Homo sapiens: one gene and its partners. The protein of the gene in region 3 interacts with the protein of the main gene of each other region in a pairwise test. Each region holds a gene or a part of one and is shown on either strand. Other genes may lie near its edges. The genes, in order: RBM41, ANKRD23, MIPOL1 and PKN1.

The links.
Region 1: the proteins of MIPOL1 (region 3) and RBM41 interact in binary tests that used the Homo sapiens proteins (3 or more experiments, as listed by UniProt).
Region 2: the proteins of MIPOL1 (region 3) and ANKRD23 interact in binary tests that used the Homo sapiens proteins (3 or more experiments, as listed by UniProt).
Region 4: the proteins of MIPOL1 (region 3) and PKN1 interact in binary tests that used the Homo sapiens proteins (3 or more experiments, as listed by UniProt).

Annotation. Positions count from the first base shown.
Region 1 is NC_000023.11:107,066,815-107,073,834, forward strand, and holds part of RBM41 (RNA-binding protein 41), read right to left. Parts: intron 3,612-7,020; coding exon of another isoform or gene 3,376-3,611; exon of another isoform or gene 2,589-3,375; coding exon 2,441-2,588; intron 880-2,440; coding exon 713-879; 3' UTR 2-712; coding exon of another isoform or gene 1-1. UniProt on the Homo sapiens protein: May bind RNA.
Region 2 is NC_000002.12:96,841,004-96,848,683, forward strand, and holds the start of ANKRD23 (ankyrin repeat domain-containing protein 23), read right to left. Parts: upstream 3,019-7,680; 5' UTR 2,990-3,018; coding exon 2,963-2,989; intron 1,509-2,962; coding exon 1,362-1,508; intron 1,183-1,361; coding exon 1,057-1,182; intron 1-1,056. Other genes in the region: ANKRD39 (ankyrin repeat domain-containing protein 39), read right to left, coding at 7,298-7,441. UniProt on the Homo sapiens protein: May be involved in the energy metabolism. Could be a molecular link between myofibrillar stretch-induced signaling pathways and muscle gene expression.
Region 3 is NC_000014.9:37,193,808-37,200,942, reverse strand, and holds the start of MIPOL1 (mirror-image polydactyly gene 1 protein), read right to left. Parts: upstream 3,007-7,135; 5' UTR 2,839-3,006; intron 1-2,838.
Region 4 is NC_000019.10:14,428,357-14,436,308, forward strand, and holds the start of PKN1 (serine/threonine-protein kinase N1), read left to right. Parts: upstream 1-4,949; 5' UTR 4,950-5,165; coding exon 5,166-5,186; intron 5,187-7,952. UniProt on the Homo sapiens protein: PKC-related serine/threonine-protein kinase involved in various processes such as regulation of the intermediate filaments of the actin cytoskeleton, cell migration, tumor cell invasion and transcription regulation.

The DNA of each region.
Region 1 (7,020 bases), on a different chromosome or scaffold from region 3:
CCTAATATTTAACATATATTAGACACTTAATCAATGTTTATTGCTATGAATTCAATGATACTCAATGGTTGCTAGCTTAAATGGCTGTGAGAACACCAACATTTTGATCTAAAATATTTCACTAGAAAAATATATAGCTTTTTGAAGACTGATAACTTGTGGAGGAAGCATTCATTAAATAAGTCAACTGACTTATGAAACTACCTACTATTACTGCTGATAGTTCTGACTTAATAGCATTTGTTGATGCTTAGGCCTGGGGGTCCTACTCTTTTATTTACTAGGTGGATGAAATATGGCAAATGGGCTCTAGTAAAGAAATATTTCAACATTTAATTAGTTTTTTATTTCTGTGTATACGAAGCAGTCTAAGAAAGAATGTTATCTCTAGAGACAAATATTGAGGACCCCAGAAAAATTATAAAGATTTTTAAAAATCCTTAGGAATAATCCGTTGTAATTCATCCTGAGAAAATAATACTCTTTGCACTTTACCCTTCATACTCAGCATATCATCTGTCCTATATAGTCTTCAATTATATAATAGAAAATGTTTTCTACCAGTTCTCTCCAAAAGCTGAAATTACTTTTTTCCCCTCCCTCAGTTAGTTTTTCCTCTTCAACTCCAAACAAACTGGTGTCTATACATAAATCCTAGATCCAAGATTCCAATTCAAGAAAGACCATCCAGGACCCACAATTTATATATATTCTAGCTACCACTAATTTCTGTAGTGCTACCTGTAGCACATGATATGAGAGAAGTCGCTTGGAGATTTGACCGTTGCTTTTTGTTCTTTCCAAACTCTATCACCAATATTTTCCCATGTAGTTTGTATCCATTTACTAGATGCAATGCTTGCCATGCTATCTCCTTATCTAAAAGAGAAAGAAAAAATTTCAATTTACATAGGACTTAATAATTCAATTCTATTCCAGGTTTAGTTTAGATTATTTTGCCTTGGAGTTAAATGTAAGCTATAAGGCCATATAGTCATTTGATTTGATCATTTTTTCTATAATCTCCCATTTGCATTATTAAGCAAAATTAAATTAATGGCAAAAATAATAACAATAAAAACTCAAAATCGGTGTTTGAGGGTGTCTCCTAATTCAAAGAAACAAGTAGAGAAACAAAGACATAGGCAGCGTGCTAAAGAAGTCTAAGCTATTAGTAATTATACACAAGTCTCTATCTTAGGTAACAGATTATAGGTATTATTAGAATCAATCATTTTCAAAATGAGTAACACAAAAGAAGTTATCATGTTATCAAGGGCACTTTGCCACTTTTTTTTCAGTGGGAGAGTGGTTCTGGGCCACCTTATTGGGATAAATAAGTATAAGAACACTTGTAGGCATATTGAAGGTTGAAATGTGAGAATATATACTACATGCCAGGAGTATTCAACTTATGGGTCTAAGAGCCTGGATGTAAGAAATAAGGAAGGGATGATTTGTGGCCAGGAGTTTGTGGAATCCTAAGTAGACAAGTAGACTAAACCAATTTTGTTTCATATATATAAGTACTACAAATTTTTTTAAGTGTATAGCTTTCAAGATTAGTAAAACAGCTACACATTTTAAAGTACTTGCTTTAAAAAGCCTTTTTATTATGTATTTTTTCAACTAATACATCGTATTATGTGGGGCACCCATAAACGGTTTTTTAAATTTAAAAGGGGTTCTTACACTTGAAAAGACTGAAAACCACTGGTATAGCGGATTTAAAAACCTTCAGTATGATAGGAAAGATGATACAAGACTGTATGAAAACAATGGAGGGGAGTTTGGCAGTATTCATGTGTAAAACCACTTGCCCACATATAGATTAATAGGCTATTTAGAAATGACGATACTTTAGGGACAATGAAAGGTACAGATCCTACAAAGCCTTCCCCCAAAACAACATATTATCTGGTCTGTCATAGAAACTGAAATTTGCATATTATTCTTCCAGTTGGATTAGAAGCTATGCATTAATTAATATGCAAATAATATTTAGAAGACTGTATCATCATCTACTAATTATGAATTAGTAATAAATTAGTATATTAGCTTGCTCTCACTTAGTCCTAAAGGAACAGCGCATAAGCCAAGTACATGTGTTCTGATCAGAATACTAATACATTAATTAATGAGTAATCTAATTATAACTTGGACTAGAAATACTATTGTCAGTGAAGGGAGTACAGATTTTGGTAGGGTAAGAAGGAAGTACCAAGACTGGGAAAAACTGAGGACACTGGGGTAGTGTGGCCATGCACTGTCAATGGAGGAGAGGAAACAGAAAGAAACACTGAAAACATATTTTTCGTTCATTGTCTTGTTCTCACATGCTGTGGAGAAATCAAAGGACTATATCTAAATTAGAGAGGTTATAGGTAATCTCTAGCGAACTGAGGGGCAACTGAGTAATCATCTGGATGAAACTACTTACTGGGAAAGGTGATAAAAGCCTGGCCCCTCATTCGTCCAGTCATCATTCGGAATTGAATTGGAGGTCCTTTTTTCTCCTGGAACCGAGCGAACAATGACACAAGATCTCTTTCAGTCACCCGAGGGCTAAGGTTCTTCAGGTATAATACCTAAAACAAATTGAGGATCAACCAAAATATCATATAAAGGAGGTAAGGCACTCTTTGTTTTTTTCTTTTTGAGACAAAGTCTCACTCTGTCACCCAGGCTGGAGTGCAGTGGCGCAATCTCTGCTCACTGCAACCTTGGCCTCCCAGGCTCAAGTGATTCTCATGCCTCAGCCTCCCGAGTAGCTGGGATTACAGTCATGTGCCACCACACCTGGCTAATTTTTGTATTTTTAGTAGACGTGGGGTTTCACCATGTTGTCCAGGCTGGTCTTGAACTCCCAAACTCAGGTGATCCACCCGCCTTGGCCTCCCAAAATGCTGGGATTACAGGCGTGAGACACCATGCTCAGCCGTAAGAAAACTCTTTCATTATGATTAGAATTAGTTTCACATAAAAATGGTGGATTGAACACATTCATTTAATTTCATTCCATCCAGAAAACTCTCTAAAACTATAGGCACTTAAAAAAAAAAAAAAAAAAACACAAATCAACAAGGTCAGGAGGAACAAGAAAAGGAGACAACAGCAATAATAATCTGGAAGATGAAAAATAATTGGATGAGCAGGAACCAACTCAGCACACTGAAGAAAGCTGAATTTTAAACTGGTAGTGGAGAGAGCCAAGAACACACCTGTCACCACTTAAGAATCCTTAAATAGTTCAGGAACTGATAATTTCACTTACCTTCAGAAATAAATGTGAAGGGATGGGGTTAAAATAAGGCAAATCAGTTGAAGGCTGTCTAAAAGCCAATATGATTTTTAAATACCCTCCCTCACAATATGCTATGGGGTAAAAGATAACTTGCCAATCCTGGTAGAAAACTTGAGGCTCATTGTCAGAAGATGGGGAATGCCATACATGGCTGAAGATGTGAACACTGTTTCTGAAAGCAAGGAAACTAAGAGAATACTAAATGTTGAGGTCCTCCCAGTCCTTTTCTGCCATTTGGCTCCTAGAACGCTGGTAGTACCCTCGTAAGAAAGATTTTGGAAGTCTTCTCTGGGAAAACTGGTAAGTCCTAGGAGGAAAGATATAAAAATACTGACTTGGGATGAGGAATTTCTCTAACAAATGACCCAGCCAGACCACTTTAAAGTGAAGCTCAAAGTCAACAAGTGCCATTTGTGTGCTCAGAGATTCCAATCTGCTTTTTAGTTCCTACTTATAAAGTTGGGCATGGATTATCAGGCATCTTAGGAACTCCTCTAATGTGAAAGAGAGAACACAACAAACATAAAGAAAAGAAAGGAAATAGGAAAAAACTTCAACAAACCATAACTAATATCCTCAGGAAAATAAGAGAAATTATTCTACCTATTAGGCGGCACGGGAGGGTAGGTGCGGTGGCTCACTCCTGTAATCCCAGTGCTTTGGGAGGCTGAGATGAGAGGATCGCTTGAGTCCAGGAGTTTGAGATCAGTCTGGGCAACACAGTGAGACCCTGTCTCTGCAAAAGAGACAGGGTGGCATGTGCTACTTGTGAGCAAACAGCATGCACCACCACAACTGGCCAATTTTACAAGTCCCAGCTATTTGGGAGGCTGAGGCAGGAGGATTACTGGAGCTCAGGAGTTTGAGGCTGTAGTGAACTATGATCACACTACACCACCACACTCCAGCCTGGGCAACAGAGTGAGACCCTGTCTCAAAAAAAAAAAAAAATTCAACAGAACAAAAATGAGCTCTTATATGTGATTGAACGTAAGATGTTATCAGCTTAAAACAGATTGTTTTACCATGCCCTATACCTATAAAAGATAAACAGAGAAAAATGGGAAAGATATCAAAGTATATCACTACAAAAAAAAAAAAAAACCCAATGAACCACAAAGGAAGACGGCAGAGAGGGAGAGACAAAAGAGCTACAACAGAGACAGAAAACAATTAACAAATGGCAATAGTAAGTCCTTTGCTAGCAATAATTACATTAAATATTAATAAACTCCCCAAGAGACAGAGTACCTGAATGGATAAACAAAATCCAACTATATGCTAGCTATTCTATGAGGCCAGGATTACCCTGAGACCAACCTAGACAAAAACATTATAAGAAAAATACAGACCAATATCCTTAATAAACAGATGTAAAAATCCTCAACAAAATATTACCAAACCAAATTCAACAGCACATTAAAAAGCTCATACACCTTGACTAAGGGAGATTTATCCCTGGGATGCAAGGATGATTCAACATACAAAAATTGATCAATGTAATACAACACATTAACAGAACAAAATATAAAAATTACATGATTATCTCAACAGTTGCAGACAAAGCATTTGACAAAATTCAACACTGTTTCATGATGAAGACACTCAACTACTAATAGAAGGAATTTACCTCAACATAATAAAGGCCATATATGTAAAGTCCACAGCTATAATATTCAGTATTAAAAAACTGAAAGCTTTTCCTCTAAGATCAGGAACAAGGCATGGATACCTACTCTCACTTCTATTCAACATAGTACTGGAAGTTCTAGCCATAGCAAATAGGCAAGAAACAGAAATAAAATGCATCCAAATCAGAAAGAAAGAAGTAAAATTATCTCTGTTCACAGTTGAAATGATCATCCATGTAGAAAACGCTAAAGACTCAACAACAACAAAAAATTAGACATCAGTAGAATGGGGAAAAGCTGAAAGCTTTTCCTCTAAGAACTGGCAAAAGACAACAATGCTCACTCTCACCACTCTTATTCAACACAGTAGTGAAAGTCTTAGCCAGAGCAATTAGACAAAGGAAAGACATAAAAGGCATCCAAAGCAAAAAGGAGGAAGTCAAATTGTCCCTGTTTGCAGACAACATGATCTTATATAGAGAAAAACCTAAAAAAAAACCTGAAAGAGTCTACCAAAAAGCCCTTAGAACAGATACACAAATTCCATACAGTTGCAGGATACAAAATCAACACACAAAAATCAGTAGCGTTTCTACACACGAACAGCAAACTAGCTGAAAAAGAAATCAAGAAAGCAATCTCATTTACAATAGCTACAAAAAGCAAAATAAAATACCTAGAAATAAATTAACCAAGGAGGTAAAAGGCCTCTACAAGAAAAACTACAAAACACTGATGAAAGAAAAGTTTAGAGGATACAAACAGAAAGATATTCCATGCTCATGGACTGAAAGAACATTGTTAAAATGACCATACTATCCAAAGCAACCTACAGAATTAATGCAATCCCTATCAAAATACCAATGACACTCTTCATAGAAAAAGAAAAAAAATCTTAAAATTTTTATGAAACCACAAAAGACTCTGAAGCCACAGCAATCCTGAACAAAAATAACAAAGCTGGAGGAACTGCACTACCAGACTTCAAAATGTACTACAAAACTGTAGTAACCAAAACAGCATGGTACTGACATAAAAAGAGACACATGTAACTGTGGAACAGAATAGGGAACTCAGAAACTGACCCATGTATCTACAGCCAACTAATATTTTAATAAAGACACCAAGAACATCAGTTGGGAAAAGACAGTCTCGTCAATAAGTGGTGCTGAGAAAACTGGATACCTATATGCATGAAGAATGAAACCAGACCCCCATCTCTCATCCTATACAAAAATCAACTCAAAACAGATCAAAGACCTAAACGTAAGACCGGAAACTAAAAAACTACTAGGAAAAAACATAGGGGAAACATTTCAGGACACTGGTCTGGGAAAAGATTTCATGAATAAGACCTCAAAAGCACAGGCAACGAAAGCAAAAATAAACAAACGGGATTATATTAAACTAAAATCTTCTGCACATCAAAGGAAACAACAGAGTGAAAAGACGAACTACAGAATGGGAGAAAATATTTGCAAACTACTCACCCAACAGGGGATTAATATCCAGACTATACAAGGAATTCAACATCTTAACAGCATCAAAACAAACAACCTGATTTAAAAATGGGCAAATGATCTAAACAGCTATTTCTCTAAAGAAGACATACAAATTGCCAACAAATATATGAAAAAATACTCAACATCACTAATCATCAGGAAAATGCAAATCAAAACCACAATGAGGCATCATCTCATTCCAGTTAGGATGGCTACTACTGGAAAGACAAAAGTTAACAAATGCTGGTGAGGATGTGGAGAAAAGCAAATTATTACAGACTGTTGGTGGGACTGTAAACTTTTACAGCCACTATGGGAAACAGTACGGAGGTTCCTCAACAAACTACAAATAGAACTACCATACGATCCAGCAATCCCACTACTGAGAATTTATCCAAAGGAAAGGAAATCAGTATATTGAAAAGACAATGGCATTCTCATATTTATTGCAGCACTATTCACAACAGCCAAGATATGAAGTTAACCTAGGTGCCCAACGATGTGGTATATATACACAGTGGAATACTATTCAGCCATAAAAATATTGAAATCCTGTTATTCAGAGCAATGTGGATGGAACTAG
Region 2 (7,680 bases), on a different chromosome or scaffold from region 3:
GCAGCCCACCAAGGAACACTGCTGGCTCGTACTAATGCAGTTTCTTATTCTAATCCCACGCCAGGAGATTGAATAGACTGTGTGTGTGTGAGCGTGTGTGTTATGGATTGACTTGTATCTCCCCAAGATTCGTATGAAGTACTAACCCCAGGTACCTCAGAATGTGACCTTATTTGGAAACAGAGTCACTGAGGATGTAATTAGTTAAGATGAGGTCACACCGGCGTATGGTGGGCCCCTCACCAATATGACTTGTGTTAAAGTGGGCTCTAATCCAATGTGACTGATGTCCTTATGAAAGGGGACACGTGGGCCGGATGCGGTGGCTCATGCCTGTAATCCCAGCACTTTGGGAGGCTGAGGCGGGCAGACCACAAGGACAGGAGATTGAGACCATCCTGGCTAACACGGTGAAACCCCATCTCTACTAAAAATACAAAAAAAAATTAGCCGGGCGTGGTGGCGGGTGCCTGTGGTCCCAGCTACTCGGGAGGCTGAGGCAGGAGAATGGCATGAACCCGGGAGGCAGAGCTTGCAGTAATCCGAGATCGTGCCACTGCTCTCCAGCCTGGGCAACAGAGCGAGACTCCGTCTCAAAAAAAAAAAAAAAAAAAAAAAAAAAGTTGGGGGAGACACATGGACACAGGCATGCACACAGGCAGAACGCCCAGCAAACATGAAGGCAATAGTTGGGTGATACATCTACAAGCCAAGGAACGCCAAAGATCACCAGCATCCACCAGAAGCCGGAGAGGCATGAAGGGATTCTCCCTCACCACCCTCAGAGGGAACCAGCCTCGCCAACACCTTCCTGTTAGCCTTCCAGCCCCCAGGACAGCGAGGTGACACATGCCTGCTGTTGAGGCTGTCCAGGCTGTGGGACTTTGTTATGGCAGCCCTGGCGGACACATCCGCGGGGGCTCTGGAGTGGATTTAATGGGCTCCCCAGGCACTGGCTGTGTGGTCCTGGCCTGCAGTGCCCACTCTGCCCCAAGCCCTTCCTCTGGAACTGGAGCCCTGGTGTGTGCACTGCCCTAACCCCGACCTCCCACTCACCTTAACCAGGGGCTCAGGTTTCCTGGGGGGGACTCTGTGTCTCAGTCGCTTTTTCCGTCTTTGAACCAAGTTTTCCAAGTCAGCCAGGTTATCCAGATTAAATCTGGTACTGTTAAATCTTTCAAGCTGGGGCAGAAGACAAGACCATGCCAGCCATCAGCCGCTGGTCAAGAGATCTCTCTGCCCTGCCGACAGGAGACACCAGCTGCTCAGGCTGCCCCACCAGAGTCCCTCCAGGCCTCACTGCTCAGCCGGCCTCAGGGATTAGCCACTGCCCCCAACCCCGGCCCCCGCCCCTCTCTCACTTTCTTCTTCTTCTCTTCTTCCAATTTCAGCTTCTCCCGGGCCACAGCCTCTTGGGGGCCCCTCCTCCAGTCACTAGGCCAGGCTCCAGGGTCAGGAACTCCATGTCCAAATCCCAACACTTTCCCTTCAACTCTTTCTCCACTTACCTGTAGGAACAGGATATGAGTACTGAGTTGGGAAAATTGGAGGAACCCTTAGAAAACAGAGCTGTGGAGTAGCAGGGAGCTGTCTTATAAGGGCAGATGTCACAAGGCTGGTGCCCGGGATGGGAGCCGGCCTCAAAGCTCCTGCAGTCCAGAGTGCTGGCAAGCTCCCTCACCCTGTGGGTGCTGCAGGCTCCGCAACTGTGTCATCAGCTGACACCCAGGGGGACAACGGATCCCCGCCTACCCTGCTCCTGTCAGCAGGAACACAGCTGGGGGGACATGAGGCCACAACCTATTTATACTGCTGGGCATTTGCCCAGGTAGCCTCAGGGCAGATGACACCTTAGCTTCCCCCATGTTGTTAAGATTCCTACCAGATCATACTGACTGCCACCTGACTCCAAGCTCAGAGGGACAGAGAAGTCCCCCCGGGGTAAAATTCTAAATGCCTGGGTTCAGTTCTCGGCTCCTTTTGAAGCTACATTTAAGCTCAAACACTTAAGGCAATTGCCTAAAGGAGTTGTGAAGGTTATGAGTTATTGGGACCTGTGCCTGGGGCAAAGCCTCCGTAGCAAACACCCATGCTTCCTCCCACCGGGCCCCACCTCAGGAGTTCAGGAGCTGGGGAGCACTGAGGAATCAGCCTGTTGTGGGGAAAGAACAGGGTGGAATGATAGGGTAACAGATCCTAGGACTTTCTAGTCAGGTAGAACCATATTCCTTCTAAAGAACTCTAGCAACCTAACACCTCCCTGCCATTTGCCTCCCGCCAGAGGCTGCACCAGGCTGGGGCCAGCAGCCCACAGATGGGCTTGCTGGGCCTCACACCCTCCAGGCCCCTCGTCACTCAAACCGACATCCCTAAGAGTCACTGTTTCCCTCACTGCCCAGGGAGCGAAAGAGCACCCTTCCCTATCCCCAAGGCAGCCAGGACCTCTGGCCATTTCCAGAGCAACAACTATCATGGTGCTTAAGCTGAACTACAACCACCACAGCCACACTTGCATCTTCCAAAGTAACCTGCCATTTCCTGTTCCTCTTTCACCATCACTATCCAGGGCAAAACTCACTGAACTCAAGGATTTTCATGTCTTCTTTCCCATTCGACTTCCCTCTCTTGCTCCCTAACCCCCTCACCACCTCACATGAGAACCGAGCAGACACACCAGAAAGAACCGCACGCTCAGCCGGGTGTGGGGGTACACGCCTGGAGTCCCAGCTACTTGGGAGGCCCAGGTGGGAGGATCACTTGAGCGTGGGACTTCAAGGCCAGGCTGGGCAACACAGCAAGACTCCGTTTCAAAAAATACAGATTTTTATAAAAGAACTGCATGCTTCCCTGCACCTAAGACTTGACCCTCACACCACAGAAAGAAGCTGCCAGCCCTCTCTAGCCAGCCTCCTCCTATCAAGCCGGTCCCAGGGTGCCTCCCACCTCCGTCCCACATCCTTACCAACTGCTGAATGCTGATGAAGTCCATGGTCCCCCCTGTTCCTCACACCCCCCAGTGAGAAGAGCTGAACTGCTCAGCCCTTTATAGGAGCGCCTGGAGACGGGCAGGGGTGGACAGGGAAGGACTGGCGCAGGTGCAAGCCCCTGGGCCAGATGACTCTGGGACTCTGTCACACCAACTAAAATACCAGTCTGGGAATGCAGCCCACTGGGGAAAAGAAAAGGAGCTGTTTGGAGATGAGTTGGCTGCATCCTCGGACACCCACTCCTGCACCTCTGCCATGCCCCACACCTACTCAGGGGCCATTTAACCAACACACTGCTAGCCCAGATTCGGGTGAAACGTGTTCCCCTCTCCTAAGTTTAGATGCCACTCCTGAAGAAAGCCCAGCCTGGGCCTCCATGTTGTAGGGCCGGCTGCCTGTGAACCTGAAAGCCCAGCCTAGGTGGCTGAGCAAGGAGGCTGGAAGCCTGAGGGGGTGGTCGGGAGGGGCAGGAGCGGCCAGCCTACAGCCTCAGCCCTCATGGTGGCCACGTGAGGAAACCGTGATCTCCCAACTTGCAGTTTCAAGGCTGCCCTTCCCTTCCCTGTGCTGTGGGTTTCTCGCCCCCGGGCTCCCCCGCTCCTCCCTCAGTGCTCTGAGAGCACATGGCAGCTGCCCCAGCCCCGAAGCCAAGCCTGGCGCCTGTCCTCGGGCCTCTGGAAGTCCTCCCCGCCCCTCTACAAGCCCCTACCAGACGCTCTCCAGGGACGGAGTGTGCCCCTCCAGCCACAGGAAAGGGGAGACTGATCCGCGTCAGGTCCCGGGATGGAATAGTAACCATGAAATCCAGCCGCAGAGCAATGTGTCTCAAGCCATCAGTCACCCTTCCTAATTCTCAGGAAGCCAGGCATGCCCTTCACCCAGCTGAACCTTGAACTCCGCCTTGGCCTTTGCAAGGAAATCAGCCAGTAAATAAGACCCCAAAATCGGAGCAACCTGAGAAGACATGACCAGGGTACAAGGAGGGAGAACTGTGGCCAAGGATGGCCACAGGCCCCAGATGGCTCCCCAGCTCCCAAAGAACTGGCCTCTTGGAAGGGCTTCCACATTTTCAGAGAACTCAGGAAAAGGCAGAGCTTTCTTAGAAAACTCAGTTCTTGGCCCGGCAACAGTGAGACTCCGTCTAAAAAAAAAAAAAAAAAAAAGTTTTCTTTTTTTTTTTAATTTTTTGAGACGGAATCTCGCTCTGTGGCCTGGGCTAGAGTGCAGTGGCGCGATCTCAGCTCACTGCAACCTCCACCTCCCGGGTTCAAGCAATTCTCCTGCCTCAGCCTCCCGAGTAGCTGGGATTACAGGCACCTGCCACTATGCCCAGCTAATTTTTTATATTTTTAGTAGAGACGGTGTTTCACCATGTTGGCCAGGCTGGTCCTGAACTCCTGACCTTGTGATTCACCCGCCTCAGCCTCCCAGAGTGCTGGGATTACAGGCTTGTGCTATCGCGCCCAGCTGAAAACTTAGTTCTTAGGCTAAATTTAGGGTGCTTTTTTCAGACAAAGGTGTTCCTTGCTTTTTTTTTTTTTTTTCTTTTTGAGATGGAGTTTCACTCTTGGTGCCCAGGCTGGAGTGCAATGGCGCGATCTTGGCTCACCGCAACCTCCACCTCCCCGGTTCAAGTGATTCTCCTGCCTCAGCCTCCCGAGTAGCTGGGGTTACAGGCACGTGCCATCACCCTGGCTAATTTTGTATTTTTAGTAGAGATGGGGCTTCTCCATGTTGGTCAAGCTGGTCTCAAACTCCTGACCTCAGGTGACACCCAGCCTGTTCCTTGCTTTTGGTTATGAGGAGGGAAAGAGTCATCTAAAATGAGGGCAAAGGGGCCGGGCGTGGTGGCTCACACCTGTAATCCCAGTACTTTGGGAGGCTGAGGTGGGCAGATCACCTGAGGTCAAGAGTTCGAGACCAGCCTGGCCAACATGGTGAAACCCCGTCTCTACTAAAAATATAAAAATTAGCCAGGCACCTGTAGTCCCAGCTACTTGGGAGGCTGAGGCACAAGAATCACTTGATCCCTGGAGGTAGAGGTTGTGGTGAGCCAAAATCGCACCACTGCACTCCAGCCCGATGACAGAGCGGGACTCGGTCTCAAAAAAAAAAAAAATAAAATGAGTGCAAAGAAACAAGAAAAAGTAAGACTGGCCACCACTGTCCACTCCAACTCACAAACACCCCTCAGCACGTGGCACTGGAGGAGCGGCGTTTTGCACCCCCAGGCTTCAGGGAAGTTCTCAATAGAAAACCCATTAGTTGTCTCATATGACTGGTATTAACTCTGACTTAAAAAAAAAAATCAAGCCAGAAACAGTGTGTTGAGCAAGAAAGGAAAAAAGATTCCTTATTAAAAGTTCAAACATAAACAGAAGGCTCAGGACCTCCTTGACTACCTCTCTTGCCACGTGGCCCAGGAGAAACCATGGCTGGCAGTTTAACAGCCACCCTCCTGCTTCTGCTCTGTGCATTTTGTGGATGCACATCCACGTTTTTCTTTTCTTTTGAGACAGGGTCTCACTCTGTTGCCCAGGCTGGAATGCAATGGCGCGATCTCGGCTCACTGCAACCTCCACCTCCCGGGTTCAAGCGATTCCCCTGCCTCAGCCTCCAGAGTAGCTGGGATTAGAGGCACCTGCCACCACATACGGCTAATTTTTGTATTTTTAGTAGAGACAGGGTTTTACTGTGTTAGCCAGGATGGTCTCGAACTCCTGACCTTAGGTGATCCTCCCACCTCGGCCTCCCAAAGTGCTGGGCTTACAGGCGTGAGCCACTGCTCCTGGCCTACATCCACGTATAGATCCATACATTTATACATGATCTTAGCCAAAAGGCTGAGAGGCAATCACATTCTACAGGCATGTTCTGTGTGAAGGGGGTCCCACTGTGGACACGAGCAGCAATATCCTGTCAGCACGCTGCGCTCTGCTGTGCAGCCGAGAACTTGGATCTGCAGAACTCAACCACTCCCTATCAGGGAGGAGTCGGTTCTCTCTTTTTTTTTAACATTACTCCCCATGCTCCAATGCACATATTTGTAAATGCTCCTGTAAATAAACATCTTTGTAACCATGGAAGAACATCTCTCTACATAGCTACAGAGAAATCAAATTATTGGTTCTGCTCATTTAAATTTAAATAGATACTGTCAAACTGCCATCTACAGTAGCTGTACCAATTCCCATGAATGGATATCAAGAAACAAAGACAGCACTTTGGGAGGCCGAGGCGGGTGGATCACGAGGTCAGGAGATTGAGACCATCCTGGCTAACACGGAGAAACACCGTCTCTACTAAAAATACAAAAAATTAGCCGGGCCTGGTGGTGGGTGCCTGTAGTCCCAGCTACTCGGGAGGCTGAGGCAGGAGAATGGCGTGAACCTGGGAGGCGGAGCTTGCAGTGAGCCGAGATCACGTCATTGCACTCCAGCCTGGGTGACAGAGCGAGACTGCGTCTCAAAAAAAAAAAAAAAAAAAAGAAAGAATAAAAGAAAGAGCATAAAAGAAAAAAAGGGAAAAAATTAAATGTACATATATAGAACAAAGGATCAGGATCTAGAATATCAACACTCCTATGAATCAATAAGAAGTGTTTCTAAAATCGGCATGGGTAGGCAGCTCACAGAAGACACAGGTGCTCAACCTCACTAGTAACCAGCAATGAAAAACGAAACAGATGAAACAGCACTTTTCTCCCATCGGACCGTTGCAATCAATGAAATCATGGTATGCGCAAAGTGCTGATGAGGAGCTCGGGAAGCGGGCCTCCCTCAGGCTGCTTGCCACGTGCCAGGCACTCTCTCGAGGGCTCTCCCAGTGCACACTGACCTCCTCCCACAATGACTCTGAGGCGGGCCCTATGATAACCACTCTCATTACAGAAGAGGAAATGGAGGGGCAGACAGCTAAAGTGACTTTTACCAAGGGCATTCAGCTAGAAAGCAGCTTCTCACATAGTCCCTACTTTCTTCTAATACTTACATAGTTTTGTGTTTTTATATTTAGATCTTTAATCTTGCAATTTATCTTTGGGTGTGGGATGAGGTAAGGATATAACTTTATTTTTTTCCAAATAAATAGATGTCTCATATGAACTAATTTAGAATATGATCATCTGTCCAGTCTTAAACACTTTTAGCCACACCAAATCTACTCCCTCGCTTCCACAGTGACCAGACTGGGGCTCTTCCTGGGTGGTCTGGCCTCAGTTCCCTGCCCAGCAGCATGGATGCTGACCAAGGCAGGGGCTTGGAGAACTGGTCTGTGTACCCTTTAAAGGCAGCTGGAGATAGGGTGGCGGCTCAGCTGGATAGCAGGTCCCGCAGGTCACTGTTGCAAGGCAGCAGGTCACATGCTAGCCGTGCCTTTCGGTCCCGGATGGCCTTCAGGGCTGGGCTGTGTTGCAGGAGGAGGGAGCAGATGTCCCCGTGACCCCTCTCAGCAGCCTGTGGAGAGAAAGGCTGGAATCAAAGGGCATACCCCCCCACTGGGCTCTGCTCTCTCTTGTTCCACTTTCAGTGGTTCTTCCTTCTAAAAAAGAGGCCTCTCTGGGCGCAGTGGCTCACGCCTGTAATCTCAGCACTTTGGGAGGCCAAGGCAGGCGGATCACAAGGTCAAGAGTTCAAGACCAGCCTGACATGGTGAAACCCCATCTCTACTAAAAATACAAAAATTAGCCAAGTGT
Region 3 (7,135 bases):
TGACAGAGGTACACCTTGTCTCAAAAAAAAAAAAAAAAAAAATACACACACACACACACACACACACACACACACACACACACACACACACATAGATAGATATAGTATTATGGATCTATATTTCTCTAATATAGCCCATCTCAGTTACTGATTTCACATCCAACCAATTGGCAAAAAATTGAACAAACATTTTTCAATAGAGCAGGGGTTAGTACGCTATGGCCCACAACTCAAATCCAGCCAGAGGACTGTGTTAAAAAAAAAAAAAAAAAAAAAAACTAACTGGGAAACCATTAGGTTGAGACAGCTCCAGCACTTTGGGTTCCTATGTAAACAAACCAAAACCCAACTCAATGTAAACAGTAAAACTAAACTTGAGTTTAATCAATCAGAAACCACCAAACAACTTCTAACTAGAGACATTCCACTGTTACCAATCAAATATTTTCTGTTTCCATAAACACCTTATAAAAGTTTTCCCCTCACACCCTCTTGGTGGAGTCTTGAATAACTTGTGGTCTGGTGATACCCAATTTATGAAATTGCTGAATGCTCATATAAACTCTAAAATTTCCATGTGCCTAAAGTTATCTTTTAACAACTGTTTTTGTATAACCCATGAGCTAAGAATTGTTTTTACATATTTAAAGGGTTGGGAACAAAGTAAAGAGGAAAAAAACAGAAAAGAATGTGTAACAGAGACTGTACAGCCTGTACAACCTAAAATACAGGTAGTCCGAGCTTCACACATTACTTGGTTAGCTGAAACTCTACAAAGCGAGGGCTGCCTACACTTATTGTCTGGTCCCTTACAGAAATAGAGGATATCCAAATGCCAGTAAACACATGAATATGTGTTCAATACCATCAGTCATTAGGGAAATTATGGGAAAACCCCAATGTTATGTCACTATATTCCTACTAGAATGGCTAAAATGAAAAAGACAGTGTGAAATGTTGCAAGCATTTGGAGGAACCAGAATTCTCAAGCTGCCACTGAAGTATAAATTGACACAATATGAAAAACTTTTCAGTAGTGTATACCACAAACACACATCTGCCTATCCTGTAACACAGTAATTTTCTAGTAGGCATATACGCAATAAAAATGTACATATGGCCAGGCGCGATGGTTCACACCTGTAATCCCAGCACTCTGGGATGCTGAGGCAGGTGGATCAGCTGAGGTCAGGAGTTTGAGACCAGCCTGACCAACAAGGTGAAACCCCGTCTTTACTAAAAATACAAAACTTAGCCAGGCGTGGTGGTAGGCACCTGTAGTCCCAGCTACTCGGGAGGCTGAGACAGGAGAATTGCTTGATCCCGGGAGGCGGAGGTTGCAGTAAGCCGAGATCGCGCCACTGCACTCCAGCCTTGGCGGCAGAGCGAGACTCCATCTCAAAAAAAAGAAGAAAAAAAAAAGTATACATAATTTCATCAAAATATTTCTAAAAATCTTTATAGCAGCCCTATTGGTAATAGCCAAAAACTAGAAATACTATACATACAGCATGAGAATAACAAACTGCTACATAACTTGAATAAATCTCACAAATAAAATATTGAGCAAAAATCAGAAACTAAGGACTAAATACCATATTACTCCATTTATATAAAGTAAATAATAGGTGAAATTCATTGATAATGTTGGAAGTCCAGATAATGATTACCTTTGGAACCATGAAGTGGGGCTTCCGGGATGCAATAATGCTCTTTCCTGATCTAGATACTGGATACATGGGTATTTACACTTTGTGAAAATTCACCGAGCTGTACACTTACGATTCATGCACTTTTCTGTATGTCTTTATACTTTAAATATTAACGCAATAAAAATATCTCTATAAACTCTACTCCTTTGAAGGAAAATTGTATACATCTCCCATTCATTTTGCTGATTGCCATCATTACCTCCCATCAATGACATGTCTTGATTCCTATTCCTCACATTAAAAATTAAACTGTTTTAATTAATTTTATTGGCATACGATTGCATAGAATGATTATGTAATTGTCATTTTAGATGAACTCCATACCAGATCACAAGGAAAAACTTTGAAACGCCAATAATTTGTGATAGTATATTCAAGTTATCTGGGGAAGAAAAGAACACCTCCTTGAAATGTAGTTTTGTTTGGCCCTTTGTTTTGGCTTATTTCTATCTACTACCACTGTGATTTAACCTGCATAAAATGCTCAAAGGAGCTTTTCCAAACGCGTGTGTTTGTGGAAAGTTGTTCCTTTCTACCATCCTTGTCTAATAATGCGGCTGTCTTGTTCCCTCCATCCATAGAGCTTAAAATGCTTCCCAAACGTTGCACCAGGTCCAGGGACATTGTGAATCAAAAAAGAAAAAAAAAAATTCTAACAGTATCTTTTTACAGCATGGCTTAGCGCGCTTAAAGAAGCCCCTCATTCTTCGCCCACACTTCCACGTGTGAGAAATGAAATATAAAACGACTCTCTCATGGGCACAGAGTCGATCAGAGGTTGAGCGAGGACTGGAACCTTCTGACTAACCGCGACTTAAGGGGAAAAAAACAAAAAAAATACACCCTTGAATAAATGCTCAGCTGCTCAGGTCCAGTATTAGGAAACTGGAGACAATACCAAAACCATACCCAGAAAGAGCTGTCTGCCACCTGAGGACCCCACGACACTGACCTTCGAGAGAGCCCCATCACTCCCGGCCACGCGGGGTCAGCATTCACTAAGTACAGATTCCGCGGGGCCCCTTCTCCTTCTCCAAGGAAAAGTCTGCGGCCGAAAACTCCAGGGCTGATCTGTGCCCACCACTATCATTCTCCGTCGCCCAAACCTCCCTGCCCAACCGTTTACCTGAGATGCGCCTGGCATAGACCGGGGAGTCGACACTGCGCGCTTGCCGAGTTTCTCAGGCCGAGTGCGCAGCCACCGCGTCAGCCAATCGCCACTGGCTCAGAGCCTCCTGGCTCGAGACTCACCCACAGACGATCCGGCGGAGGAGCGGGGCGGCGCGTGGGGCCTACGGGGCGGCGGCGCGCCGCAGGGGAGAGCGCAAGCGGCGAGCACCGGGCATGCGCGTGCCGCGCTGCCGGGCCGCGAGGCGGGGCCTCCAGGAGAAAGAGAGAGCTTGGGAAGAAGGCCCGGGAGGAGTTTGGAGAGAAAGTAGTCGAACTTAGTCTGCTGCGGTGGTTGCCCTAACGGGATGCTTATGGTTGTCGAATCCAAGACGACGAGCGCAGAACGCTCTTTCTCTTCTGAAAGAGCAAAACGTTGTCTGGACAAAACCTAATAGGATTAGAAGAGGGAGAACGCGGAACTAAAAACGGTGTCTTGTGGCCTCATACTTGGCCTCGTCGAGTTTTCCCAAGACCTGTCGAAATTGTGCTTTCCTTCTTTGTGTGTGGTTTGGGATGAGAGGTGGGAGGGACGTGTTTCGAAGCGGCGGTCAAGTGAAAATGGCACCAGATCGGGCTCCGGTTGAGTGAGCAAAAGTACTATCTAGATCCTGGCCAAAGAACGTTTCACACTAAAACCTTGGAGCTGGTGACTTTTTTTTTTTTTTTTTTTTTTGACTGAAGTGCTGGATGAGATTACGATATGTGAATCCTCTAAGAAAAAATGTTAAACCTTACAGAATTTAAAAATGTCCAAAGTTTTCAATTGGCCTACCTCCGTGAACTAAGAATGGTATAATTAACTGCTAGTAATTTAAATTTGGGTTTTTTGTTCCATAGTTCAGAATTGGTTTTATAAATGTCACTTTAACTCCTGTTACTCATGATTCCTTCAGACACCAAATACTTAGTGACCACATACCATGTGCCAGGTACTCTTCTGGGTGCTGAGTAATAAGCAATAATATTTTTTAATACACCCCAGAGAATAGGCATAATATGAGGTGCTGACGGGTTCCTAAATTTGTGGTTAAAGTTAATGAAAGGAACTTATCCTTTAGTAAGTGTACAAAAGAGAGTTTAAAAAACTGAAAAAGGCCGGGCGCGGTGGCTTACGCCTGTAGTCCCAACACTTTGGAAGGCTGAGGCAGTGGGATCGCTTGAGCCCAGGAGTTCGAGACCAGCCTGGACAACATGGCGAGACCTTGACTTTATTAAAAATCAAAAAAATTAGCTGGGCATGATGGTGCATACCCGTAGTCCCAGCTACTAGGGAGGATGAGGTGGGAGAATCGCTTGAGCCCCAGAGGTGGAGACTGAAATAAGCTACGATGGCTGGCGCCACTGCACCCCAGCCTGGGGGACAGAGCATGACGCTGTGAAAACTAACAAAATGGAAAAGTTGGACGTAGATTAACTTGGAACAACAGAGGTTATAATATTCACCAAATTTTCGTTATGTATGCTGTAATGAACAGTGTTCTCAAGAAGTTTGTTACAGATTCAGCTTTGAAATGCTTTTTTCTTTTTTGCTTTACTTCAGTCAGGATTTGAATCATATTTATGAACATAAAGTACCATAAAAATCTATGAGACAAAAACAAAGAGTGTACAGTTTATCAGAGCAAATACTCCAATCAGGAAGTATATAGCTTGTGCAAAGGCTTAGGGCCAAATCAAATTATGTGTAAAACAAAGGAAAAAGTTGATTTTCCTGGCTAGGAAATAATAAATAAAACAGGATAGTGACTACCACAATGAGAACATTCAAACCATGTAATGAATTAGTAGAATAAATTTAGAGAAAAATTATAATATTTTTCATTGAGTAAAGTTCATTTCCTCCTTTTTTTAAAGCCCATTATCTGGGTGCTTACAGTCTCTGGCATAAAGAGAAACCTCATATTTTCTTTCCTTTTAGTAAGCTGATTTTCTCTCTCTCTCTCTCTGTTTTATGCAGTGAGTTCAAACATTAGGACTAATTCTCCCTATTCTTTTTCCTTTTTCCCTAACATACCTGAAGTAACTCATTAATGTTCTTTCCCTAAACTTTTGATACCACAACAGGTAAGTTTTCCCCTACTCCCCTCCACCACCACCATAACCAACATATCCATTTCTTCATTTTCTATTGTTCTAACAGTTGCCTGTCTATAAGAAATGAAAGAGATAAATTAGAGCTTTTTTCTTTTCTCAAAATGATTATCAAAGATATTGTCTATGTCCTCATACCTCATACAAGCTGGACTTTTACAGAAATATGGATGAAGATGAGAAGAAGAAAATGAACCACTCTTTCGTTACAGGGAGAAAAAGAATGTCATATTATTAATATTATCAAGTCTGTTAATGTCAGATCATTAATATTCTCAAGTCTATAAATATTAGGCTTCTGCAGTGTGTCACACACTGATCAGTTCTGCAAATAAAATAATGAATAACAATTAGGCACACAAGTAGCTGAGAATACCATATGTATTAATCAGGGTTCTCCAGAGAAACAGAACAAACAGGATATGTGTGTATACACAGAGACTACATAGAGAGAGGGACAGTGATTTATTGTAAGGAAATGGCTCATGCAGTTGTGGACTTTTAGTGAGTCCAAAATCTGAGGGAAGAGGCGGGCAAGCCTCAGAAAAGAATTGTAGTTGGACATACATGGAATGTAATCTGTTGTATTCAAAGTCTGGTGATTTAAATGGTAATCTCATCAAAAAAACACCTTCACAGAAGCATCCAGGATAACGTTTCACCAAATATCTGTGCACCATGGCCCAGCCAAGTTGACAAAATTAACCATCACACTGTGTAAACTGAGAAATGGCTTTGGGAGAGGGGAGTTCAGGGGATGAGGAAGACAGAGTCAGGAAAATCTGAAGGAGATAATGCCTCCTGTAGTATGAATAAGACTTAGCAAGGTGAAGAGGTGAGGGTGGAGGTGCAGAGAAAACAGAATTCCTTATAAAGGAATCAATATGGGAGTGAGATACTGTAAGGAGCTATAAGCAATTTAATATCACAGTATAAAATTTAACATGGAAAGTGGTGGGAAATGAAGTTGGAGAGATTATGAAAGGTCTTTTTTAAAAATAGAGTTGGGGACTCACTATGTTGCTGGGGCTGGTATCAAAGTCCTGGCCTCAAGCAGTCCTCCCACTTTGGCCTCCCAAAGTGCTCGGATTACATGCATGAGTCACCATGCCAGGCAATATAAATGATCTCCTAATTAAGTACCTTGGACTTGATTCTATAGTCAATGAATTTTGAAAGTTAAAACAGGAGTGATGAGATTAGATTTACACTTTCATTCATCAATTTAGAAATACGTTTCAGAATCAAAATTCTCAAGTTTGCAAGACTAGTTAATCTAATTGAAAAACGATAAAAAGGCTGGGCTCTGTGGCTCATGCCTGTAACCCCAGCACTTTGGGAGGCTGAGGTGGGTGGATCACTTGAGGCTAGGAGTTGGAGACCACCCTATCCAACATGGTGGGACCTCCCCCCACCGTCTCTACTAAAAATACAAAAAATAGCCAGGCATGGTGGCACATGTCTGTAATCCCAGCTACTCAGGAAGCTGAAGCATGAGAATCACTTGAACCAGGAGGTGGAGGTTGCAGTGAGCTGAGATTGTACCACTGCACTCTAGCCTGGGTGACAGAGTTAGACCCTGTCTCAAAAAATAAATAAATAAATAAATAAATAATAAAATGTATGTGGTAAAGCACGATAGATGGAAAAGGGTAGCTTGAAGAAGTAGGAAATAGTTTGCAAAATCTGGTAAATAACTAGTTGAGAAAGAGGAAAGTGTTGATGGTATTAAAGAAATTGGTGAATAAGTAAGTTCAGTTTTGATAGAATGAGTTTGAATTGCTAGGGAAGCATCTTAGAGTAGCTTTCCAGCAGTCATATGCAAGGAAGCATTCTAGACTGGGCTAGACATGAGATTAATGAACATAGATATGATGGATAAAGCTATTTTTTAAATTTTCAAGTCAGTCTCATAGCACTTTGCTTGACTACAGTAATCCTTTTAAAGGATATGAGGATCCTTTAGCTACTACCTGTCTAAAGGATCATGATTCATTTTTTAATAGGCTTTTTTCATACACTTTAAGTTCTAGGGTACATGTGCACAACGTACAGATTGGTTACATCGGTATACATGTGCCATGTTGGTTTGCTGCACCCATCAACTTGTCATTAATATTAGGTATTTCTCCTAATGCTATCCCTCCCCCAGCCCCCCCCCA
Region 4 (7,952 bases), on a different chromosome or scaffold from region 3:
GTTGCCCAGGCTGGAGTGCAATGGTGCAATCTTGGCTTGCTGCAACCTCCACCTCCCGGATTCAAGCGATTCTCCTGCCTTAGCCTCCTGAGTAGCTGGGACTACAGGCACTCACCACCACACCCAGCTAATTTTTTTTGTATTTTTAGTACAGATGGGGTTTCACCATGTTGGCCAGGCTGGTCTCAAACTCCTGATCTCAGGTGATCCACCCACCTCGGCCTCCCAAAGTGCTGGGATTACAGGCTTGAGCCACCACACCTGGCCACGTCTCCCCTTTTAGCAAACAAAGTGTGGCTGGACGTGGTGGCTCATAACTGTAATCCCAGCAGTTTGGGAGGCCGAGGCGGGAGGATCACTTGAGGCCAGGAGTTCAAGACCATCCTGGGCAACACAGTGAGACTTCATCTCTGCAAAAAAAAAAAAAAAAAAAAAAAAAAAAGAATTAGCTGGGCATGGTAGTGCATGCCTGCAGTCCCAGCTACTCAAGGGGCTGAGGTGGGAGGATGACTTGAACCTGGGAGGTTGAGGCTGCGCTGCAGTGAGCTGTGATCTCACCCACTGCACTCTAGCCTGGGTGACAGAATGAGACTTTGTCTCCAAAAAAAAAAAAAAGGCCTGAACTGCAACTTTATCTCCAGTGCCACCAAATTCCCCAGTGGGTCTCTGTAAATATTCACTGAGTAAATGAATGCCTGAAGGGTGGAGCGAGAATTTGGCTGGTTTCCCCAGCTCCATCTGGGGAGGCAGCCTGGGACCTCACAGGTTGGGGAGGGAGGGCCCATCCCTGTGCAAGGTGGTTCCAGACAACCCAATCCTTCGGCCCCCATGAAACCTCACTCTGCCTTGTCCTCCTCATCTGTAGAATGGGTGGGCTGGAGAATTAGAGGGAGCTACTTCGTTTCTCAGGGAAAGGGCCATAGACATCCTGGCTTGATGATTGGGGTAAGGGACTTCTCAGCTTACTCACCTGCAAAACTGGAGCAAAAGAACTAGTTTGGGCCAAGCTTGATGGCTCATGCCTGTAATCCCAGCATTTCAGGAGGCCAATGCAGAAGAATTGCTTGAGCCCAGGAGTTCAAGACCAGATTGGGCAATATTACGAGATCCAGTATCTACACACACACAAAAAAATTTTTTGAAAAAACTAGCCAGACATGGTGGTGCACACCTGTGGTCCCAGCTACCTGGGAGGCTGAGGCAGGAGGATCGTTTAAACCTGCAAGGTGGAAGCTGCAGTGAGCTGCGATGGCGCCACTGCACCCCAGCCTGAGTGACAGAGTGAGACCCTGTCTCTAAATAAATAAATATCAGGCTGGGCGCGGTGGCTCACACCTGTAATCCCAGCACTCTGGGAGGCCAAGGTGGGCAGATCACCTGAGGTCAGGAGTTCGAGACCAGCCTGCCCAATGTAGAGAAACCCCATGTCTGCTAAAAATACAAAATTAGCCGGGTGTGGTGGTACATGCCTGTAATTCCAGCTACTCAGGAGGCTAAGGCTGGGAATTGCTTGAATCAGGGAGGCAGAGGTTGCGTTCAGTTGAGATCGTGCCATCACACTTCAGCCTGGGCAACGAGAGCGAAATTCTGTCTAAACAAACAAACAAACAAATAAATAAATAAATATGAAAGAACTAGCTTGCAGAGTTTTTTTTTGTTTTTTTTTTTTTTTTTTTTTTGAGAGGGAGTCTCGCTCTGTCCCCCAGGCTGGAGTCTCGCTCTGTCCCCCAGGCTGGAGTGCAGTGGCGTGATCTCAGCTCACTGCAACCTCTGCCTCCCAGGTTTACGCCATTCTCCTGCCTCAGCCTCCCGAGTAGCTGGGACTACAGGCGCCCGCCACCACGCCCGGCTAATTTTTTGTATTTTTAGTAGAGATGGGGTTTCATCGTGTTAGACAGGATGGTCTCGATCTCCTGACCTCGTGATCTGCTCGTCTGGGCCTCCCAAAGTGCTGGGGTGACAGGCGTGAGCCACCATGCCTGGCCATGAGTTCTTTTCTTTTCTCTTTTCTTTTTCTCCCTTCCCCTCCCTCCCTTCCTTCCTCTCTCTCTCTCTCTCTCTCTCTCTCTCTCTTTCTTTCTTTCTGACAGTCTTGCTCTATCACCCAGGGGGGTGTGCAGGGGTGCGATCTTGGCTCACTGCAACCTCCGCCTCCCAGGTTCAAACCATTCTCCTGCCTCAGTCTCTCAAGTAGCTGAATATACAGATGCCCGCCAGCACACCTGGCTAATTTTTTAATTTTTAGTAGAGATGGGGTTTCACCATGTTGGCCAGGCTGGTCTCGAATTCCTGGCCTCAAGTGATTCACCCCCCTTGACCTCCTAAATTGCTGGGATTACAGGTGGGAGCCACTGCGCCCAGCCACAGAGTTCTTTCTTTTATTCAATCAACAAGCATTTGAGAAACAGTTAGAAGGCTCATGTGGCTGGAAGGAGTGAGCAAGGGGGAGAGATGGGAGGAAGTAAGAACTGATGGTGCAGAGCTTCGTGGGCTGTGGGGAGGACCTGAGTTTTTTCCCTGAGTGAGCTGGGAGCCATGGAGGGTTCTAGACAGAGGAGGGGCATACCCCATCTCATGTGTTCACTGCTCCCTTGGGCTGTTGTGGGAACAGACTGTGGGGGCGAGGGCAAAACCAGGAGACCAGGAGAGAGGTGACTACTGGTTAAGGTGAGTGATGGTAGGGACTGGATGCGACAAAGTGGAAAGGTGAAATGTGGGTGAATTCTGGGCTTGTGTGTGTGTTGTTGTTGTTTTCTTTCTCTTTTTTTTTTTTTTTTTGAGAGGGAGTCTCGCTCTGTCGCCCAGGCTGGAGTGCAGTGGCGCGATCTCGGCACACTGCAAGCTCCGCCTCCTGGGTTCATGCCATTCTCCTGCCTCAGCCTCCCTAGTAGCTGGGACTACAGGCGCCCGCCGCTTTCACCATGTTAGCCAGGATGGTCTCAATCTCCTGACCTCGTGATCCGCCTGCCTCTGCTTCCCAAAGTGCTGGGATTACAGGCGTGAGCCACCACACCTGGCCCCCTCTTTTTTCTTTTTTTAGATGGAATCTTGCTCTGTCGCTCAGGCTGGAGTGCAATGGCACGATCTCGGCTCACTGCAATCTCCGCCTCTTGGGTTCAAGCTATTCTCCTGCCTCAGCCACCCGAGTAGCTGGGATTACAGGCATGCGCCACCACGTTCAGCTAATTTTATATTTTTTAGCAGAGATGGGTTTCACCATATTGGCTAGGCTGGTCTCGAACTCCTGACCTCCAGTGATCCATCCACCACCCACCTTGGCTTCCTAAAGGGCTGGGATTACAGGGGTGAGCCACTGCACCCAGCCGTTTTTTTTTTTCTTTCTTTTTTTAGACAGGGTCTCGCTCTGTCACCCAGGCTGGAGTGCAGGGGCATCATGATTTCTCCCCACAGTGATGCATTCTCGGCCTCTTGAGCTCAAGCGATCCTCCCGCCTCAGCCTCCTGGTAGCTGGGACTACAGGCGTGCGCCACCATGCCCGGCTGGATGGGTTCTGGATCAGCATAATTCTCCTCCTTCTCTCTTTCTGTTGTTAGTATCTCCCAAAGAGTTGCTCAGAGGAAAAAATAAGAGAGAAAACATCGCGCCCTGGTTTCTGGGACGACTGAAACCACGCAGAGCCACGGGTAACCAAGGTACCCGCAGCCCACGGCGCTTCCTCGGGTCCCAAAGGGCGCCAATGTGCAGGCACCGCCGCCAGGGAGCGCTCCCTGCCGGAGCCCCGGAGACCAAGGTTTGGCTCCCTCGCCTGGTTTCCGAAGGAGTGAGGGTCCGACGGCGGCCACGAACAAAGCTGCACGCTCTGCAGACCCCGGAGATCCCCTAGAAATTCCGCAGAGGCCTCCACTCTCCGCTTGGGCACGAGTCTGCATTTATGGAGCGCCATCTGCATGCAGCAGCCCCGAAAAAGAAGGCGATGCCCATTTTATAGCGGGGAAAACTGAGACTCAGAGGCCACAGGGGTCCCCAGGATGAACAGCAAGTTGGGATTCAAACCTCTTTTAATAACAATAACGATAATAGAGGCTGGGCGCGGTGGCTCAGGCCTGTGTAATCTCAGCACTTTAGGAGACCGAGGCGGGCGGATCACCTGAGATCAGGAGTTCGAGGCCAGCCTGGCCAATATGATGAAACCCCGTCTCTACTAAAAATACAAAAATTAGCCGGGTATGGTGGTGGGCACCTGTAATCCCAGCTACTCAGGAGGCTGAGGCAGAAGAATCACTTGAATCCGGGAGGCGGAGGTTGCAGTGAGCCGAGATCGCGCCACTGCACTCCAGCATGGGCAACAGAGCGAAACTCCGTCCAAAAATAGCAAAACAACAAACAAACAATTACGATAACATTAAAAGTGACAGCAGCTAACACTTATGGAGCGTCTAGTGTGTTCTCAGCTCTTGGCCTGCACTGTCTTATTGAATTTTACCAACACCGAGGAGGTGAGCGCATCATTCCCATTTCACAGATGAGGTGCCTGGAAGGGTTTGTCTCCCTCAAGGCGTAAAGCGCTAGGATTTGAATGCAGATCCGCCCAGAGCTTGTCTCCAGGTAACGGGGAAACTTCCATGCCCTTGAATAGGGGACCACAGATGCAGGCGTCCCGAGCTTGCAAATGCACCGGGGTAGGGTGGGGTGGGGGGTTATTCTGTTTGTTTTTTTCAGGGGTCCCGGGAGGCCCAAAGGCCTCCGCCGCTCTCGGCTTGAACGCGTGGAACCGTTCTCCTCGGGTTCCCGCGCGCTCCAATGGGGGACCCCTCGGCAGCGTGCGGTCGTCTCGGGACCCGGAAAGAGGAAAGGTGGGGAGCCGATGGGGATGCTCCGGGCTCGGGAGACCGAGGGGGCGGACGGGCGGGACCCCGCAGCCCCGGGGGCCTCTGGGAACCCGTCCCCCCTCGGCCCCGCCCCCTCCCCGGGCGCCGACCTCCGGGGTCACGTGACCAGGCCCGGCGGCCGCTGGGGCCGGAGGGCGCGGCGCGGGGACGCGGCGGCCTGGCCAGGCGAGGCGGGAGCCGAGCAGGCCGGAGCGGGCCGCGCGCCGGGGAGGGTCGCGCCGCGCCCGCCCCCTCCCCGCCACGCCCGGGGCGCACGCGCGCTCCTCTGGCCGCCCCTCCCTCCGCGCGGGGACCCCTGGCGGGCGGCAGGAGGACATGGCCAGCGACGCCGTGCAGGTAGGCGCACCTGCGTCTGGAGTCCCGGGGCGACCGGACGGCGCCGGCGGACCCCGCCCGCGCGCTGCCGGGGGAGCCCCCCCAGCCCCCGGAACGGGACTCGGGTGACGATGGCAAGGGCGGGGGCCTCCGGAGCGCCCGGCGCCCCCTCCCTGGGCCGGGACTGTGGAGCCAGCGAGGCCCCCTTCTCGGCAGGTGGCGATGTGGACTGGGCTGGTTTGGGGGCGATCCCGGAGGCAACCCCTGCTACACCCTCAAACTCGGCCTCTCCTGGAGAACTAGAAGGGGCGCGGCGGAGGCTCTACTTCGGGTGTCTGTGGCTGGCTGGGCGTCCCAGTGCCTCTCGTCCGCCCCCAAACTCATCCCCCTCCCCAGGGTTGGGTACCCGGCAGGTGCCGCTCCACCTGGGGCACGTGCCTGGCGCAGTGCCCTGGGAGGGGAGGAGGCTGCTGGGCCCGGCCCGTGCCCTTCCCCCGCATAACAAAGCTCCAGCCACCCCCGCCTCTAGACAGCTTTATGATGTTCCAGACGCCACCCAGATTGGCACCTGTTGGCGGAAGTACCCGAGTCACTGCATTAGGTCGGGGGAATGGGGACCCCCACTCCCACCCTTGGGCTGTCAGGTGGAACCTTCTCCTGGGTGGGGAGTGTCTCAGTCAACAGGCCAGGGATGCTCCCATATATAGAATCCTACTTTTTTGCATGGTGGCTGGGCATGGCTGGGTCACCCCCACCCTGCTAACACACACACGTGACTGGCACCAGCCTCCCGCCCAGCCAGATTCCCCTTGTGCCACCTGGTGGGGATCACTGACCTGGACTCATCTTCCCCGTCTGTGACAAGCACGGCCAGGGTGACTGCCAACCTTCTTTGGTTCAAGTGACCCAAATCTGAGAAATGTCTGTGCCTCAGTGTCCCCATTAGCACCTCACCATCCAGTTCATTGTCCTGTGGTTGTTGTGTAACTGGGTTCTCGTCTCCTTCTGCACCTGCCCCCGGCCCCTTTGTGTCTCCCCGGTAACCCCCGGTCCCTCCCGCCTTCCCAGTCCTGCTGATGGCCTGCCGGCCTTGCCGAGGAGCTGGGCGTATCTGGTGTTGCCGATCACACAAGGTCAGACCTCAAGGCCGGGATGGGCCGGGGTCCCTGCCTCTACCCCCGGCCCAGGGAGGGCTGTGTAGGAATCCCCGGGTGCATGCATGCGCTTGGCGCATCCCACACATGACCCAGACAGGCTGTGATTCCTGCAACGAGGCTGGACCCACGCCCTGGTCCCCCCTTCCCATCTCCTCCCCAGTCTCTTCCCCGCTCCTGGTCATCCCTCTCTCATGGTTGCTTGGGCCTGCTGCCCTGTCCCTCTGTCTGTCCCAACGTGTGCCTGTCTGTTCTGTGTCCTGCAAACGGATGTCCTGTCCAGATTCCGGAAACGCCCAAGGCATTGAAATCTCCGGATGTGGGAGTCTAGGTCCCTGGCTGCTCTGGCAAGATGGGGATTATGGGAGGCAGGTCCTCTGGGTCTGAGGTCTCCGCTCCATGGTGGGCAGCGGAGGAGCAGGGGTTCTCCATAGGACAGGCCAGGCCAGGGCCCTGAGTCCTGGGTTTGCCTTGCTGGCCCTCAGGTGACCCCTGTGCCTTGGGTAGAAGTGAGTCACTCAGGGGAGGAGAACCCAGGAGCCCAGCCTCCCTCCCTCTGTGCATTACAGACCTCAGCTGCTGGAGGTGGGGCTGAGGGAGGCCACCTCTCCTCTCTGCCTGGACTTCCCCAGTTGAGCTGGCCCCGCTCTTGGCTGTGTCCTCCCTCTGCCTGCTGGGGATGGGGTGGGGCCTTCTGAGCGAGGGTGGTATTTGGTGAGCCTGGGCTTAAATTCCAGCGCTGACACTTCCTCGCTGTGTGTCCTGGGCCCAGTGCCTTCGCCTCTCTGAGCCTCGGTTCTGACCTAGGAAAAATGGGACTAAGAGGGTGTTCATGGGAGAGAGAGAGACCGAGACCTTGCCAGCACTTGGCAGGCAGGGCTGCTGTGAAGTCGTTACTGGTAAGCGTCCTGGTCAGCAGCTCAGGGTGTGAATCTGTGTCCTTATTGATTGATTTACTGATTTATATTTATTTATTTTAGAGGAGAGAGTCTTGCTCTGTCACCCAGGCTGGAGTACAGTGGTGCGATCCTATGTCACCGCAGCCTCGATTTCCAATTTCCGGGGCTCAAGTGATCTTCCTGCCTCAGCCTCCCAAGTAGCTGGGACAAAAGGCACAGACCAACATGCCTGGCTAATTTCCTTTTACTTTTGTAGAGACAGGGTCTCGCTCTGTTACCCAGGCTGGAATGCAGTGACGAGATTCTTGTTCACTGCAGCCTCAAACACCTGATCTACAGGACTACAGGCATGCACCACCACACCTGGCTAATTTTTTTTTCTTTATTTTTTTAAATTGAGACTGGGGTCTCACTCTGTCACCCAGGCTGGAGTGCAGCGGCATGATCTCTGCCTCCTAGACTCAAGCCGTTCTCCCACCCCAGCCTCCTGAGTAGCTGGGACTACAGGTGCACACCACCACGCCTGGCTAATTTTTGTATTTTTAGTAGAGTCAGGGTTTCGCCATGTTGCCCAGGCTGGTCTTGAAATCTTGAGCTCAAAGTAACCTGCCCGCCTAGGCCTCCCAAAGTGCTGGGATTACAGGTGTGAGCCACTGCCCCCAGCCTTTCTTTTTTTCTTTTCCTTTTTTTTTTGTGATGGAGTCTCGCTCTGTCGCCTAGGCTAGAGTGCAGTG